2 separate regions of the Homo sapiens genome follow, and region 1 is linked to region 2. Evidence: fine-mapped expression QTL. A gene starts in region 2. The other region holds a variant in brackets. All regions are shown on one strand. Distances are between the middles of the regions.

Region 1 (8,338 bases), 32 kb before region 2:
TTTAGCCAGAGCAATTAGACAAGAAAAAGAAATAAATGACATCCAAATTGAAAAGGAATGTCAAGGTGGCACATGCCTGTAATCCCAGCTAGTCAGCAGGCTTAGGTGGGAGGATCCTTTGAGCTCGGGAGTTTGAGTTGAGCCTCAGCAACAAGTAAGACCCAGTTCCCCCCACCCTCCCAAAAAAGTAAAAGGAGTAAGTAAAATTATCTCTATTTACAGATGATAAGATCTTCTATACAGAAAACCCTAAAACCTGTTAGAACTACATAAACTCAGCAGGCCAAGTACACATGCCAATAGTCCCAGCTACTAGGGTGGCTGAGGCAAGAGGATCACCTGAGCTTAGGAGTCTAAGGCTGCAGCGAGCTATGATCATGTCACTGCACTCCAGCTTGGACAACAGAGCAAGACCCTGTCTCAAAAAAGAACAAAAAGAAAATTCAGAAAGATAAAGAGTCGACACACACAACACTCAGTTGCATTTCTATACATCAACAATTAACAATCTGAAAAATAAATTTTAAAAAATCCCATTTAGAATAGCATCAAAGAAAATAAAATATTAAGAAATTAACCATAGAGGTAAAGGACTTGGATACCAAAAACTACAAAAGACTACTGAAAGAAATTAAAAAAGATCTAAACAAATGGAAAGATATCCCACATTCATGGGTTAAAAGACTTAATACTGTTGTCAATTTTACCCAAAGGGATCTACACATTTAATGCAATCCCTATCAAAATCTCAATGGCATTCTTTGCAGAAATAGAAAAAACCGACCCTAAAATTCTGATGGAATCTCAAGGAACCCCAGATACTAAATAACCTTGAAAAGGAAAAACAAAGTTGGAAAACTCACACCTCTTGATTTCAAAACCTACAACAAAACTACAATAATCAAAACAGTGTTGCCACTTCTGTTTAACATAATGCTGGAAATTCTAGTCAGAATAATTAGACAAGAAAAATAAAAGGTCTATTGTTGGGAGCAAGCCCCCCAAAATCTGGCCATAAACTGGCCCCAAAACTGGCCATAAACAAAATCTCTGCAGCACTGTGACATGTTCATGATGGCCATAACGCCCAAGCTGGAAGGTCGGGGGTTTACGGGAATGAGGGCAAAGAACACCTGGCCCGCCCAGGGCGGAAAACCACTTAAAGGTATTCTTAAGCCACAAACAATTGCATGAGCGATTTATGCCTTAAGGGCATGTTCCTGCTGCAGTTAACTAGCCCAATCTATTTCTTTAAGTTGGCCCATCCCTTCGTTTTCCATAAGGGATACTTTTAGTTAATCTAGTATCTATAGAAACAATGCTAATGACTGGCTTGCTGTTAATAAATACTTTGGTAAATGTCTGTTCAGGACTCTCAGCTCTGAAGGCTGTGAGACCCCTGATTTCCCACTTCACACCTCTATATTTCTGTGTGTGTGTCTTTAATTCCTCTAGCGCCACTGGGTTAGGGTCTCCCCGACCGAGCTGGTCTCGGCAGTCTATTTTGGAAAATCAGAAATTAAATTATCTGTCTGTAGATGGCACGACCTTATATGTAGAAAACCCTAATGAATTCACAAAAAAAATGTTAGAACTAATAAATTTAGCTGAATAGTAGGATACAAAATCAACATGCAAAACTCAGTTATACTTCTATATACTAGCAATGAACAATTTGAAAAGTTTAAGAAATAAAATTGTATTTACAATAGCATCAAAATGTGTAATATTTAAGAATAAATTTAACCAAGGACTTGTACACTGAATTAAACAAGAAATGGAAACAAGAATTCAAGTAAATATTTATATGCCAACATTCATAGCAGCATTATTCACAATAGCCAAAAGGTGGAAACAACCTCAGTGTTCATCAACAGATGGATAAACATAATGTGGTATATAAAAAGGAATGACGTTCTGATACATGCTACGATGTGAATAAACCTTGAAACACACTAAGTGAAATAAGCTAGATACAAAAGGACAAGTATTGTATGATTCCACTTATATGAGGGGCCCAAAGAAAGTTAAAAATTTAGATAAGAGGCTATTTTTAATTAACAGCCAAGATTTATTTTCATTCCTATGAAAGCCAGAAAATAATGTATTAAGACCACAAATGGCCCTATCTGTTCCCTATGGTTTCAAACTAACTAAAACCTTATCAATTTAACATTCTCCAGTCAATGCTCCTTCTTTTGAGACAGGGTCTGGCTTTGTTACCCTGGCTGGAGTGCAATAGTGCCATCTCAGCTCACTGCAACCTCTACCTCCAGGGCTCAAGTCATCCTCCCACCTCAGCTTCCTGAGTAGCTGGAACTACAGGTGCATGCCACCATGCCTAACTGATTTTTGTTTTTCTTTTCGGTAAAGATGTAATTTTGCCATGTTGCCCGGGCTGGTCTTGAACTCCTGGGCTCAAGTGATCCTACTGCGTTGGCCTCCCAAAGTGCTGGGATTACAGGTGTAAGCCATCACACCCAGCCTCAATGCTCTTTTAACAAGCTCCACATTACCAACTTGTCAAAACTCATGCTACTCATCCTGAATAAACATAATGACTAAAGCAGGATACACTGAATGCTCCCAACTGGTATACCTGAACATTTCTATTCCTATAAATTAAGTTGTATGTTTACATGAGTTGTATTTTTTCCTCAAACCTACTGACACAAGTTGTACTTACTGTAACTGGTTGACTGAAACACTTTTTAAACCGATACAATGAATGCAAAAAGAGTTGCTTCTAAAAATTAAATTTTTATTTTCTATTTCCTCAGTCTCTCAGGAAATGTACACAGAATGCCCTAATTTTATCTCTCTCTCTACTCAAATGATGCCTGTTTCTTTTCAAAGAAGCCTTTCCTGGTTCATTCAATATGAAGTGGCATTCTCTGTATTCTTAAGTAAAGTACCCATACTTTACTTTTCTTCAGAACATTCAGTCTGATACTATGTTTTCTGTCTATTTCTACCATTAGATTACAAACTGCATGAAGGCAGAGAATTGTCTTAGTTACTCTAGACCTCTAGCAATTAGAACAGTGCAAGAAATGTAGTAGGTGCTCAATGAAAATTTAAATGTTTAGAAAGAATCCTTCAAGATAAGGTTTAATTAAAATGAGGGAATCTGCACTCAGACAAGACTTTTTCAATTAGCCACAGATAAGACAGATCCTACGTGTTCCCTTGTTCCCAAAATGAATTTTTCCTTCAATTCAAACGCAAACTTTCTTTTCAAGAATACCTCACATGCAAGCTCTTCACTACTACTCAGGAAAACCCTAAAGAATAAGTGCAACTTATTTCCAATCCCAACAGCAGTAAATTATCCACTTTGTTCTAAGGTTGATAATATCAGAATTTGTTAATGAAGTGCCAAAAATCATACCCTAAAATAACAACTAAAAACCTTTTCTCTGCTTTTCTTCAAATTTCTCTTAAGAAATTAACTCTCTGCCTTTTCAGGAAGTGGGGAGGGAAACTCTTTGGTATTCAAACAAAACGTTACAATTCTGCTTTTAAATAAAGTGTGCTCCCTTCTAGTGTTTTCCAAAACCTTATACTAGAAGAGTTTCTAAATACTTTGAAAGCAAAAAAAACAAAATTTTGATTCATCAAAATTTTGACTGCCCTTGAAATCAATTTTTAATTATATAAAATTTTAGTAAGTTCTGGGTTTTTTAAAACATCCTAAAAAACTAAAAGATAAGGAAACTGCCACATGGTCAGAAGTCATTGCGGCTCTGAAAGGTCACATGTATTACTTCATTCTTTGAAAAAAACACAAAAACTGGTCATACTGAAAATGCAAACTGAATAGAGCTATAAATAAATTTCAATAAGGTATGACAGTAATAAAAAAATGACAATGAAAAATGAATTACGAGGTTTTAAATTGAACTAAAAATTGCTTTTACTTTCTAAAATCAAGTTGCATTCAAAAACAAAATCATATTACAGTTAGGAATACAGACATGTAATAAAAATTTTTTAAAGAATAAAACTCAGAATAAAGTTATCTTTGCTTATGTTCTTAAACTATAACATATGCCCTTGGATTTGAGAAAACAGAAAATTAATGAAATGATTCACAGCAGCCAAACCACAGTTATACCAGTTACCTCGGGGAAAACACTTTTGGTTACTGTATATGACTTATGAAAAAATTTTACAATAGTTTTTTTTTTTTTTGAGACGGAATTTCGCTCTGTCGCCCAGGTTGGAGTGCAGCAGCATGATCTCGGCTCACTGCAAGCTCCGTCTCCCGGGTTCACACCATTCTCCTGCCTCAGCCTCCAGAGTAGCTGGGACTACAGGTGCCCGCCACCGTGCCCGGCTAATTTTTTTTTTATTTTTAGTAGAGATGGGGTTTCACCATGTTAGCCAGGACGGTCTCAATCTCCTGACCTCGTGATCCACCAGCCTTGGCCTCCCAAAGTGCTGGGATTACAGACGTGAGCCACCGCACCC[G/A]GCCTGTAATAATTTCATATTAAGTATCTTTTCTAATGGTAGGGAGTATTAAGTTTTATGCTGGAAGAATTCTTCATTATAAAATATCTGACATCCCATTATCAAAGAAAAGCATGTATCCAATTTCCAAAGGCTCATGTCAAAGATAATCGATTACTGCACATCAGTTTCCACTTATTGAAAATCTATTGTGTATCATTGTTAGATGCCTTATATATATTCCTCTTACATAAGCCTCAAAGTATAAGGTTAAGTATTTTGCACAAAGCCAGTCATACAGAAAAAAGCAAAATCAATCTACATCAAGTCTGCCATGCTCCCAAGTCAGTGCACCATGGTATTTTCTCCAACAGTGCATACTCGTAACCTAACAAATCTTGAGGTGGGTCCTATAAAACATATAGAACCTAGCTGCTGAAAAGAGCTACCTGTCTGGGCTGACACATGTGTCACCTTCAGCCCTTCTTTCCTCTAGGAGGTTAAAAAAAAAAAAAAAAGTCGGTTTAATCTGCTGAAGATTATGCTTATTAAAAAAAAAAACAGAAAAGAAAATGTAGAACTTCTTCCACATGTTCTCTTTATGACTTAAAAAAGCAACAGAAGGTAAGCTGATCATGATCAAAGACCAAAATTTCTAAACTCTAGCTACATATGAAACTCTAGCTCAGCTTTGGCTTTTGTAAACACTTAACAGCCGTGTAGTCAGACTAAATGACTTCCAGGGACAGCCTACGTTTTCCAAAACCCTCAGTATAAAACTATAACATACAGAAATAATACACAGCAACAGAATATGCATATTTTCTTGTTACATGTTCTTGAGAGTAAAAATTGTACCTTCTTCATCCACTAAAGTACCTTAAAATATGTGATGTAGCCATTTACTAAGTATTTATTAAACTTTAGAATTTATGTTCTTCCATACATCACAATGGATTTGAACTGACAGAAATGAAACTTCATACTGATAACAGAAGTTACACTGCTCCAAAACTCTGAAGTAGGGCAGATCTTGGTTAATCCTTTTTGCTAAGTAAATCAACTGAAAAGAATGACTTAGATCAAAATTTTTATATTCCATTTGGAAATGAGAACACGTCTATTTCTTAATATTCTGGAACTGATAACTCACCTGAGACCATGGTCTGTGATCTGATAACATCCAGATAAACTGAGAAACAGAAGTACACGTCCAGTCTCTTGATCAGATTTTTCACTCCCAAAGTAAATTAAGTCTTTTCCCCTAGGCAATCTAGTCCTTGCTGCTTTTCTACACATTGCAGAAGATTCTGGGAGTGATGACATAGTTCTTAAAGCTGTTCCTGTACAACAAAATGAGTGACCACAATACGCAAAGGCTGGAGAAGCACAATGCTGCTGCCAACAGACACTAGTCCTTAGTCCAACAATGTCCTTACTAAAACAACCAGAGGTGGAACAACTAAAGTTGGATGCTGTTTCCATTACACAAAGACTTTCAACATTTCTATGTCTCCATTCCACAGTATCTTCAATATCAGCCAAATCTTCAGCATCTAACATCCACACATAAGGAGAAGTGAAATTCTCAGAAGAAACAGGCTTAGTCCAGGGGTGTTCATTATCTATTTCTTCTCCAATGCCCTTGTTAGTTAAATCGTGCAAACAGGCATACTGCTTGGTGGACTGCATGGTAATGTCTTTATTTTTCCACGCAGTTGAAGTAATTTTGCTTGTAGATGTTTTCAAAAAGCCACTTTGATGAGATGTCAGAATTCCAAGAGCTCTGGAAATCTTCTCTAGGGCCACATCTGTGATTTTCTCACAACCAGACAGATCAAGATGCCGAAGACTCTGGCAGCAACCAAGCCAAGACCAACTATAATTAAAAGACAAGACTATTAATGAATATTGTTAAATTTTTCAAAAGCATTTGACTATATGCATGTAGATGAAAACCAGAAGAAAGATTTGACATCTAATATAATCACTTAAGTATTTAGTGAATTATCTATTGTTAAGGTACTATTCTTGATGCTAGGGATACAAAAACTCAATGAGAGTAATAAGGAAGTCAAAGTATTCCTAACCTAACAGAAGGGTAGGATTTGAGAGGCGTAAGGATTGGAAGACTTAAGTTTATTATCCTAAAAGTAGTCAGCAGAAGTAAGGCTGCAAACACATGAAAGAAAGAGAATAACCGACGGTTAATGAGGAAGATCCATAAGAAACAAGCTCTAGGAAGATGGAGCATTAGCTTTAGCCCGAGAAGAGTATACCTCTTCCTCTGCAGCAGGAAAAAAGGTGCTGATATAAATAGTTGGGTGGGAAAGAGGGAGTGAGCAATAATACAGAGAATTGGTGGTCAAGGAGATATACTCTGGGAAGAAGGTGGCTTGAAGAAAGTTACACTATACTATTTCAGAGTAACTGTGAAGAATCTAAGAGGGAGCTTTGCCAAATGGCACTTAGAGCCCAACTAAAACTAAAACTTCTTAAAAACATATAATACCAATCTACATGGTTGCACAGCAGGGCTCAAGGGCCTAGACAAAATATAGGACTACAGAGATTGCAAGATAATACAGATGGGATTTTTGGATCAGCTGGGACCTATGAGTAAGAAGTGAAGAACTGGAGGGTGCTATCAAATTATACTCAGACATGACTGAGATTTGATAGTAAAAAATAATAGTATGATTAAACTGCAATTACATAAATGAAACCTTATAAAATAGTTTTTCATTATATTTAAATTGTTTAAAATAACTAACCTGTCAAATGCAGAATCTGAAATGTCAGTCTGGGTAAGATCCAGATGCTCCAGGTTAGGACAAAGCTCTAAAATCTGCCTAACCTAAAAGGCAAGAAATTGTCACTGTAAAGATCTGCAGAACTTCAGTTAGCTAAGTAACAGATGACTATTAGTAAACATAATCTAGTTCACAAACTTTTGTGAATATAAAAAAAAATCACTTGAATACTTGAAAAAAGTATAATAAAATATTCTGGGCTCAAATCCCTGAGAATCTCTTTTTTTTTTTTTTTTTTTTTGAGACAGAGTCTCGCTCTGTCACCCAGGCTGGAGGGCAGTGGCAGTATCTTGGCTCACTGCAACCTCCGCCTTCCGGGTTCAAGCGATTCTTCTGCCTCAGCCTCCTGAGTAGCTGAGACTACAGGCACACGCCACTACATCTGGCTAATTTTTGCATTTTTAGTAGAGATGGGGTTTCACCATATTGGCCAGGCTGGTCTTGAACTCCTGACCTCATGATCCACCCACCTCGGTCTCCCAAAGTGCTGGGATTACAGGCATGAGCCACCGCACCCGCCCAAGTATCTGTTTTAGCAGTTATGAGACTAAACCAGGATTTTTACATTTTTAAGGAACACTCAAGATTCTGATGTAGGAAGTCGTAATATCCACTTTTATAAAACAGTGATTTCATCTCATTTGCCCATCTTACCATGCCTTACATATTATTTAAAAAATCACATAAAACTGGGCTTTATCACTTAACATCTGTGAAACTGAATAAAATGTTTAACCTCTTCTAGTCAGTTTCCTCATCTGTAACATATAGGTAATGATAATTATGCTACAAAGATTGTTGTGAGAACTGCAATGAAATAATAAGTAACCTAGCAGTGTATGCCTACCCATAGGAAGGCACTCAATAATCATTTTTGGGTTTGTTTCCCCTTAATTAAACTCAGGAATGAGCAAACCAAACTCTTATCATGCTGTTTTTCTTAATACCCAAACTAGTGTTAATTTAAACATACCATTTTGCTGGAAACTGCAGAGCTGTATGCTAATACTAAGGTTTTTACAGAAGTACCAACATATGGTAGAACGTTATGAATTAAGCCATGGAGTAAACGT
Region 2 (8,338 bases):
GGTTTATATATAAGCCTGGGAATCTCTGAACTAACCACATCCTGACAACCACAGCCTACTCTTCTCTCAGAAATCAATTCAAAGAGACCACTCCTGACACTTTAATGTGGAGCTGACCGTGTAACTCCCTTTGCTCCCACTATACCCTATTTGGATTTCCATCCTAGCATAGATGTTATTACATACTGGACTGTAAACTTTTTGAGACTAGAGACCACATGTCACATTGCCAACGTCTTTCTGTAGTACAAGCTACTACAGAGTAGACGGTAGAAACTCCAATGCTCACTGACAGAATTAATGGAGTTAACCTTGGAGAACTGGAGAAAAGACTGAGAAATTGAAGTAAAATGGAAAAAGGATGTCATTCAATATAAATATTTACTAACATCATCCCAGTCTGAAAGGTCAGTGAATTAGCAGGAGATTTCTTAGCAGATTGTTCCCAAAAAAGTAAGAAACTACTATGATTTAATATAAAGAAAATTAAACTAGGAATCCTAACAATGACTTGGGTTTCCATCTGAATCTACCACTAGCTGCTTATGTAACCTTGGCCTAGCTAATCTAGGCCTCTAAGTCCCCAGCTATAAAACAGAAATACCTTGTCTTTACATAACTCAAAGCACTGTTGTCTGGATAACAAAGGTGAAAAACCTTTCCATAAAACTTTTTACAGATGTAAAAAGAAATCCATGGGCAAAGTATTAAATCGGGTATTGTACAGCAATATTTAAAATGGTCTAAGACATACATCTGTCAGCTTTTGAAAATTTATTTTCTCATCCTATTCACCTTTATACCTAAAAAATAAGTAGACTAACATAACTTTGGAATACATTATACTAACTGGCTTAAGCATATAAGTGGTTTACTTGATGCTAGTAAATAAATGGATGCTTCTAAAATACATTCTACTTGAGAAGTTCAATATTGAAAATAGTAACTGACTTCTTGATAATAACTGGGCATTCAGAGCCCAAATTTGTACAGTGAAATAACTATTTTGTACCTTTTTAGTCTGAGCATAAAAACTAGTTCTCATTTTATATAGTTTTATTGTAAACTGTTTGGTTGGATATCCTTGGTCTATACAACCAAAGGATGGCAAAACGTGAGATGATAAATGGATAAAAACAAACAAGGTACTCTTCCTTTAATTCCTTTAAGATTACTGAACCATTACAAAATACTTATTTTCCACTCTAGCTCCCAAAGGACATCCTAAGAGAGATTTCCATTGGCTATCAGTATCAAGAAGAAATCCAGATGTAAAATTCCTATGCATTTTTTTTTCCCTAAATCGCCTCAGTTTCAGTTCAGAAAATTGGACTTTTAATCTTCGTGATAAACGTATACAACAATCTCATTAACTATATCTAATTAATTCAGAATTAGTAATAATTTTGACTTACACCATGTCAAATTGAAAATGCTTTATTAAACTAGTTATGCAAGTGGGAACATTACTGAAAAGACTCTTGGCTCAGATATCTTGTAAAAAAGCAACTGCATTTTCAAAATTTGTTCAAATACTCTCAACCACCAGGAAGAGACAGAAAAAGAGCGACTAACTTCTTGAAAATTTTAAAATAAGGCTGCTTAGCCTTAGTCTGCAAGTAAATTAAATTGTGATTCTTTATTTTGGGAGGTCACAATCATCTGGAAATCGATGAAAGCTACAAACACCCTAGGAAAATGGACACACGCACAAAATTTTCCATATAATTTCAGGTGATCCTAGGCTACCTCTCCACAGTCTAAAGTGGAGAGAAAACCTTGGATTCTGTTAGTCTTCACTTCCACTTTCGATTTTTGAGACCATTTTTTTTTTCTTTCCTGCTATTAAAGAATGGTGTCTGAATGAACGATATTCAAAAGCCAGAGAGGATAAAAACACTATAATACTGCTAAGTAAAAAATTCAGGGATATACCCTCTTGCTTAATGGCTTAACCATTCCTCATGCTTCTCCTAGATGAGTGGTTCTCACCCTCAGCTGCATACTGCACTCAAATGGAGAGCTTTAATCATTTATACCTGATGTCTGGGTGAAATCCTAATTTTAGTGACCTAGACATCAGGACTTCTAATAGTTTTTAGTTTAAGGCTAATAAGCAACCAAGGTTGCAAACCATTGTCCTAGACAGTCCTGGTGTTTCCAACTCATGTGAACTGGGTGTTTCTAAATTTTCAGAATGGAGGGAGGGAGAAGATGGAGTGCTAAGATTTGAAATTCAACGTCACTGCTTTAAATTGCTGGTCTTGAGTGTGGCCTAACAGTGAATACCCTGGGCATCCTCCAATCGCCTGGCTGAGCTATGAAACACCCCTCTTTTCTGTAGACAATGGTTCTGCATAATGCTATGCAATTTCTGAGAATTCCTAAAAGTTGATTTCTATGCTTAAACAGTAGTCATTTGAATGCTTTATTTAGTTGGATCATTTCCACAAGAAACGGGACTGCCTGAGGTTTGCAGATATCCATGACTTTCCCCAACATAAACTGACAAATACGTGGAATGTTAATATTGTTTTAAAATCACTAGCAAAGGGCCCTGAACCATCTCCACAAAAGTGCCTCTTCAGCTTATGCTGCACCAATTATGGGCCCAAAATGGTTCTCACAGTTAAACCAACTTTTCCTGAGGCCCCCTTTATTCGAGCTCATATAAAGAAATCCAAGAGAGAATTGCTGTCTTATAACAAAATCTACATCCAGTAAGTGTTCAGGGCAATAAAAGTTGCAAGGAAAACGATAACGACACATGAAGAGTGAAGGTTCTTCAGTTCTAAACTTGGCTTTTCTCCCAAATCAAACCAGTGAAGAAAGCCGGGGGTAAAAGGAACCGGGTAGCTGGGAGACGCTGCAGTTCCAGCCAGGAAGCCAGCGAGAGGTGCAGAGGATGGGTGGGTGTCTGCACGGAGAGCCCCGAACAGGCCCGGGGGAGTGACGGGGGACGGGAACAACTACTCGGTGCAGATGGGAGTCCACCGCAGGTGGCCGGCCGGGGCACCCAGGGCTTCGAGGAGGTAGGGCCGCTCTCCTTAGAGGCAGCAGCGGGAGTCCCAGCGCGGCGGTGGGGCCGGCCCGAGGGCGGCCAGTGACGCCGGTAGCGCCCCTCCTCAGCCGCCAGGCCCTCGGCAGGGGACGCCGCCCGCCCCGAGAGCACGTCCGAGGCGGCGGCCAGGCCGGCTCTGCGAAGGCCTCGCAGCGGGCGGGCAGGCTGCGGGAGCGGGCGGCGCTGACAGCTGCGCAGGCGGCTACTCGCGCGGCGACGGCACGGGGCTGCGGGCGCGGCGCAGGCCAGGCCGCCCCAAGAACCCAGCCCGCTCCCCATCGCCGCCCGCACCGCCCACAGCGGGAGGCTCAGCGCTCCGTTACCTTGTCGCAGTAGAGCCCCACCAGCTGCTTCATCCGCCAGTGTGGGGCGGTGAAGACGTCCACTTCTTCAGGAAAGGGCGCCATCGCCACTGCCTCAGCCTCCGCCTCAGCAGCCGCGGCCGCCGCCTCTCCATAGACACCCTCGCCGCGGGGCAGAGGCGGCGCGCCCCCTTGCGCATGCGCCCGCCCCGTCGGCGCGCGCGCCCGGTCGGCTTGGCCGGCGGGGACGCGGGGGCGCGCAGGCCGCCGCCATGCGATCCCTGCGGCCCACGTGACCGGGCGCGCGCAGAGGCTCGCGGCTTCTGCCTCCCGCCCCCACTCTTTTCGTTTTTTGTCGTCTTCATAAGCCGCAGAAGGAACCCAAACCTTTTCCCTGTTTCTTTCACTACATGAAAGCACAGTAGCTGAGGGTAGGGGAAAGTCGTTGCAGTGGCGCTCTCGGCGCTTCTCCCGTTGCTGCCCTGCCCACCACGGCCTTGAGGAGAGGCAGCCAAGCACAATGGCCGCGGTCAGGGCCGCGAGCTCTGCTTGTGCCCACGCCCCGACGCCTGCTTGGCCTGGGTGACCAATGCTTCTGGCCAGGACCTCCGGAGCTGCCCTTCGCCTCCCTGCGATTGGCCCGTGCCAGATTTTTCCTGGGGCCGAGCGCAGACCACCCCGGCCGCCACTCAAAGGCCGGGCCTGGCTCCCACCCAGCGGTTGGTGAACCAGAGCTGCGGGCTCTGAGAGCTTCGGTCCCGGGCGGCAGCCCACAGCGGGCGCGGGGCCTGGGTGCGAGGGGCGGGGCAGAGACCGCGAGAGAGAGTTCTCGTGAAATTCGGGAGACTCAACGTGGGGGAAAAACAGTATCTGGGGATCCAGGTGCGGAAATGCACCTCAAGTGCAGGAACGCGGGTCAGGGATAGGCCCGACGGGCCTTGGGGGTGGGGAGAAGGGTGAATAATGGAAGGTTGGTGCGGGAAAGAACCTTGGTACAAATCCCGCCATTTTAAGCGGAGGTTCGGAGAGAAAACAAGGTCACTAACCCAGGAAAATGTCTGCCTCTTTCCCATAAATCGCCTGGCCCTGGCCACAGACCTCCTGGAGACTCTGTTCTCTGCTCACGCCGGTCAGTCTTAGATTGGTTGGCTGGAGTACTGCTGGACAGATAGAGAAATAGGAGAAAACAGGGAAGCCTGAGAACCTTGGGAGGAATTGTTATTTGCTTAATGGCCAGAACCTCCAGGAGGGCAAGAACCAGATATGCTGTGTTCACCCTTGTTCTCTATTATCTATCACAGTTGCAAGACAACATGGGGATCAGTAAATAGTCAACAAATAATGGAGTAGAAGAAGGTGAGAAAGAACTTTGCAGTGGAATGCACCCTATTTAGTTCTAATCTTATATTACTATATGCTATTATAGACAGTGTGAACAGTGGTTAAACCACAGACTCTGGAAGTTAAGATTCCTGGTTTTGCCAGACACTAGCTATACAACCGTTAACAAGCTATATGACTTCTTTATGCCTCAGTTTGCTCTGACATGAAATGAAGCTAATAATACCTACCTCAGAATCTTTATGAGGATTTATATATTTGAAGCACTTATAACAGTACCGTCTGTAAGCTAGTAATACTTTTTTAAAGCAACTCTATGAGGTAGTGCTGCAGGAAATTAAGTCTTCAAGACATTCTAGTAGTTGCCTAGGGTCCCACAAATTAGTAAGTCAAAAATCTGTCATATAAATCTGGATCTGACAGTACCCCCAGAGTCATTGCATTAGTTGGGATACAGAGATGGCTTATTCACAGTCTGTCTTAAGAAGCAGGAATAAGGCTTAAGAAATAGAATAATAATAAAATATTTGATAAAGATTAATTTCTCTCTTCCTCCTTCTCCCTTTCACCCCGTTTCTCGTTCTTTTGCCAGGACTTTGCCTCTATATTTTTTAATAACCTCCAGAGAGCATTTTCTTATTTACCCTCTATTTCTTTACCTCATACTAATCTTTCACTCCAGCTATCTTGGAATGCAGAATCAGACCTCAGGTGAACCAGTTATATAGAGAAATGAGCTCCATGAGAACATGCACTTTGTTTTATCCTCAGCACTTAGAATGATGTCTGTCATAAAGTGAGTATTCAGTAAATATGTTGGAAAAAAGAATGAGGGTAGTTCATAGCACTGTGTAATTTCCTCATTTTTACTAATGTTTAATATGCTATGTTGTCTTGTCCAATCAACTGTTTGTGTCTGTGCTGTTCACTAGTGTATCCATCTGTAGAACCAGACACATTAAAAAGGTATTTGGCAACAACAACAAAAAAAGTCCATCCACACAGTTTCACTGTAACCCAGATTTGAAGCTCTATAATCAGCTGAAAAGTAGTAACAGCCACTTTGGACACTGGCCATTTCAAGGAATTTGTTTTAGATGACAAAATGAAAGAAAGTGATTTTAAAAATAATCCCTGTGAGTAATTTTTCCCATGGAAAGCTATTAACATTAGCTCCATATGCTGAATTATGTAGCAATTAATCACCTGATATATCCAAAATAAATGACTGACTTTACTGAACTTTAGCTCTAAAGAGGTCATTGATCAGTGTAGTATCATTACCATAGGTTACTGCAACTACAGCAGATTTGGGAGGGTTATTAAGACCAAGGTTGTCACTTTACCTCTCTGTGAGACCTTTTTGGATGTATGACAGCAGATAATTCCAACAGACCATCTAGCAATTGACCACCACAAGAAGTCTGAATAAGGCATGTGAACAGAGCAGTGAAAACCCACATTGTAGAATAACTGGTAGAATTGGTCGTTTCTCTTACCTACTCTCATTCTCTCTCTGGCAACCTAAAAATATAACTTATTCTGTTATCAATAGGCCTCTTCTATAGTAGTTTCCAAGCCTAATTTTGAGAACCCTGGAAAGGGTTATTGGCCAGGGAGGGTCAATTCTAAGGCATTTCACTCCGTTTGAGTATGTGACACAGCACTTTCCCTAATAGGGGATTAGTTGTGAAAACAAGCAATGAAAGAATGTTTACGTTTTGACCCAGTTGGAATCATAGTCCTCACTCAGTACCAGAGTTGATCCTTACTGTCCATCAAAATAGTCAATCAACAACTGCTGCAGCAGGCTGATTTAGGAATTGCTGTGGTTTGAATGTTTGTCCTTTCTAAAACTCATGCTGAAACTTAATCCCCAATAAGGCAGTATTAAGAAGTGGGGCCTTTAAGAGGTGATTGGGTCATGAAAGTTCTGCCCTCATGAATGGCTTAATTCATTCATGGATTAAAGGATTCATGGGTTATCATAGGAGTGGGACTGGTGGCTTTACAAGAGGAAGAAAGACCTGTGCCAGCATGCTGAGTCCCTCGCCATGTGATGTCCTGCACTGCCTTGGGACTCTGCAGAGTCGCCACCAGAAAAAAGGCCCTCATCAGATGCAGCCCCTTGACCATAGACTTCTCAGCCCCACACTGTAAGAAATAAATTCTTTTTCTTTATAAATTACCCAGTTTCAGGTATTCTGTTATAAGCAATAGAAAACAGACTAAGACAGGCACATACAGGATGATGTCTTAATCTACTTTCTCGATAGCCACAGAGGGCTTTCTGGTAGAAGTGGCCCTTAAGTTCAGCATTAAATATTAAGAAAAATTATCCATCTGGGACTCCAGAGACTTAATTTTTTCATATTCAGCGTTAAACTGGACACCCAATATGCAGCAGGAGCTTGAGATATAAAGTTGAATAAATCCTGATTACTGTTCTTGGAATTTCCCAGCTTTTAAACTCAGTTTCATACTATCCACCCCATCCTTAATCAGCTGCAGTGATCAATGTTTCTTCCTCATTAATTTCAGTCCCTCCTGTGCTTTAACTAAATAATATATTTAATGACAAAAAATCAGAAGAATGTCATAAATGGAAGGGTACCCAGTAAAATAATTAATTTCTTAGCAGTTTTAAGTACCTGACATTATGTAATAATGTTTATCTACATTCCCTGAACAAGTAGTAGGCATACATAGTAGGCATAAAATATTTCTTGCTGCATGAATGAGAATTTGAAAAGTTTTTACAAACCAAAATACTCCTGTTATTCAGTAATATACATATATGGTTTTTAAGAAAAACTAATCCAAACAAGCTATATTTAAAGTCCTAATTTCAACAATTGTTACCCTCCTTTAAAGGGTTCTCATTTTGACCTCATAAGCAAAAATTGATTCCTAAACTGGGTACTGGGTAAGATTCAGTTCTGGGAATCTCTTTACTCAGATTTCTAATTCCTTCTACCAGGAGAATGTGAGCTGCACCGCAAACTACGTTAACTGTCCAAATATAGAGTAGTCCCATTCCTTAGATCTCCTTTTGAAGAGAAGTTTAGATAATACTAAAATCATAGTCTCTTTCATTTTAAATCTGGAGATATAATGTGTATAGTGGTCCATAAAGTTTCCTTGCAAAATTTTCAGACAGAGAAGAGCCTTCCATTTCCCAAATATACCTTTATGTCACCTACCTTGCGTCATTTACCTCTTAGTAAATATTGCCAAGTGAACACCAAAATCTTGATTTTCAACCAGAGGCTCTATTATGGGCTGACTTGTAGGGAGAAAGAATGGTTCCATGTGTATGGCCTGAGGGAAAGGTGGCTACTCTCAGGGACAACTTGACTCAGCTGTTTGCACCATGTAGTGAGAAAGTATCACAAGTTTCTGGAATGGAAAGAAATGATAAGTTCCTGTAAAGTGTCAGAGTTACATTCATTGTAGTGATGAAATCTGGCAGGCAGTTGCTTAATCCCTGCCTACAGAGAGGGGAAAAAAAAGTATTAGGAAAGTATCAGTTCTGTTTCCTTCCTCCCTACCCCTGACATTTTTTTTTTTTTTTAAAGAGGGTTTCACTCTGTCACCCAGGCTGGAGTGCAGTGGCACAAACATAGCTTACTGC

Evidence for each region.
Region 1: its variant is fine-mapped to the expression of FBXL5 in whole blood (INTERVAL, PIP above 0.99).

What each region holds. Positions count from the first base shown.
Region 1 is chr4:15,619,647-15,627,984 of GRCh38, forward strand. FBXL5 (F-box and leucine rich repeat protein 5) reads right to left here. Exons shown (of 11, transcript NM_012161.4): 7 at 8,239-8,338; 8 at 7,227-7,309; 9 at 5,606-6,331. Among named protein-coding and RNA genes, the nearest start is that of FBXL5, 32 kb to the right of the region's middle. The variant G/A (reference allele first, on the strand shown) is at 4,474.
Region 2 is chr4:15,651,820-15,660,157 of GRCh38, forward strand. It overlaps FBXL5 (F-box and leucine rich repeat protein 5), which reads right to left and starts at 3,538. Exons shown (of 11, transcript NM_012161.4): 1 at 3,385-3,538. The coding sequence starts at 3,468. It also overlaps a transcript of FAM200B not described here. RefSeq lists silencers at 2,973-3,192, 3,223-3,292, 3,431-3,608, 3,533-3,642 and an enhancer at 3,943-4,062.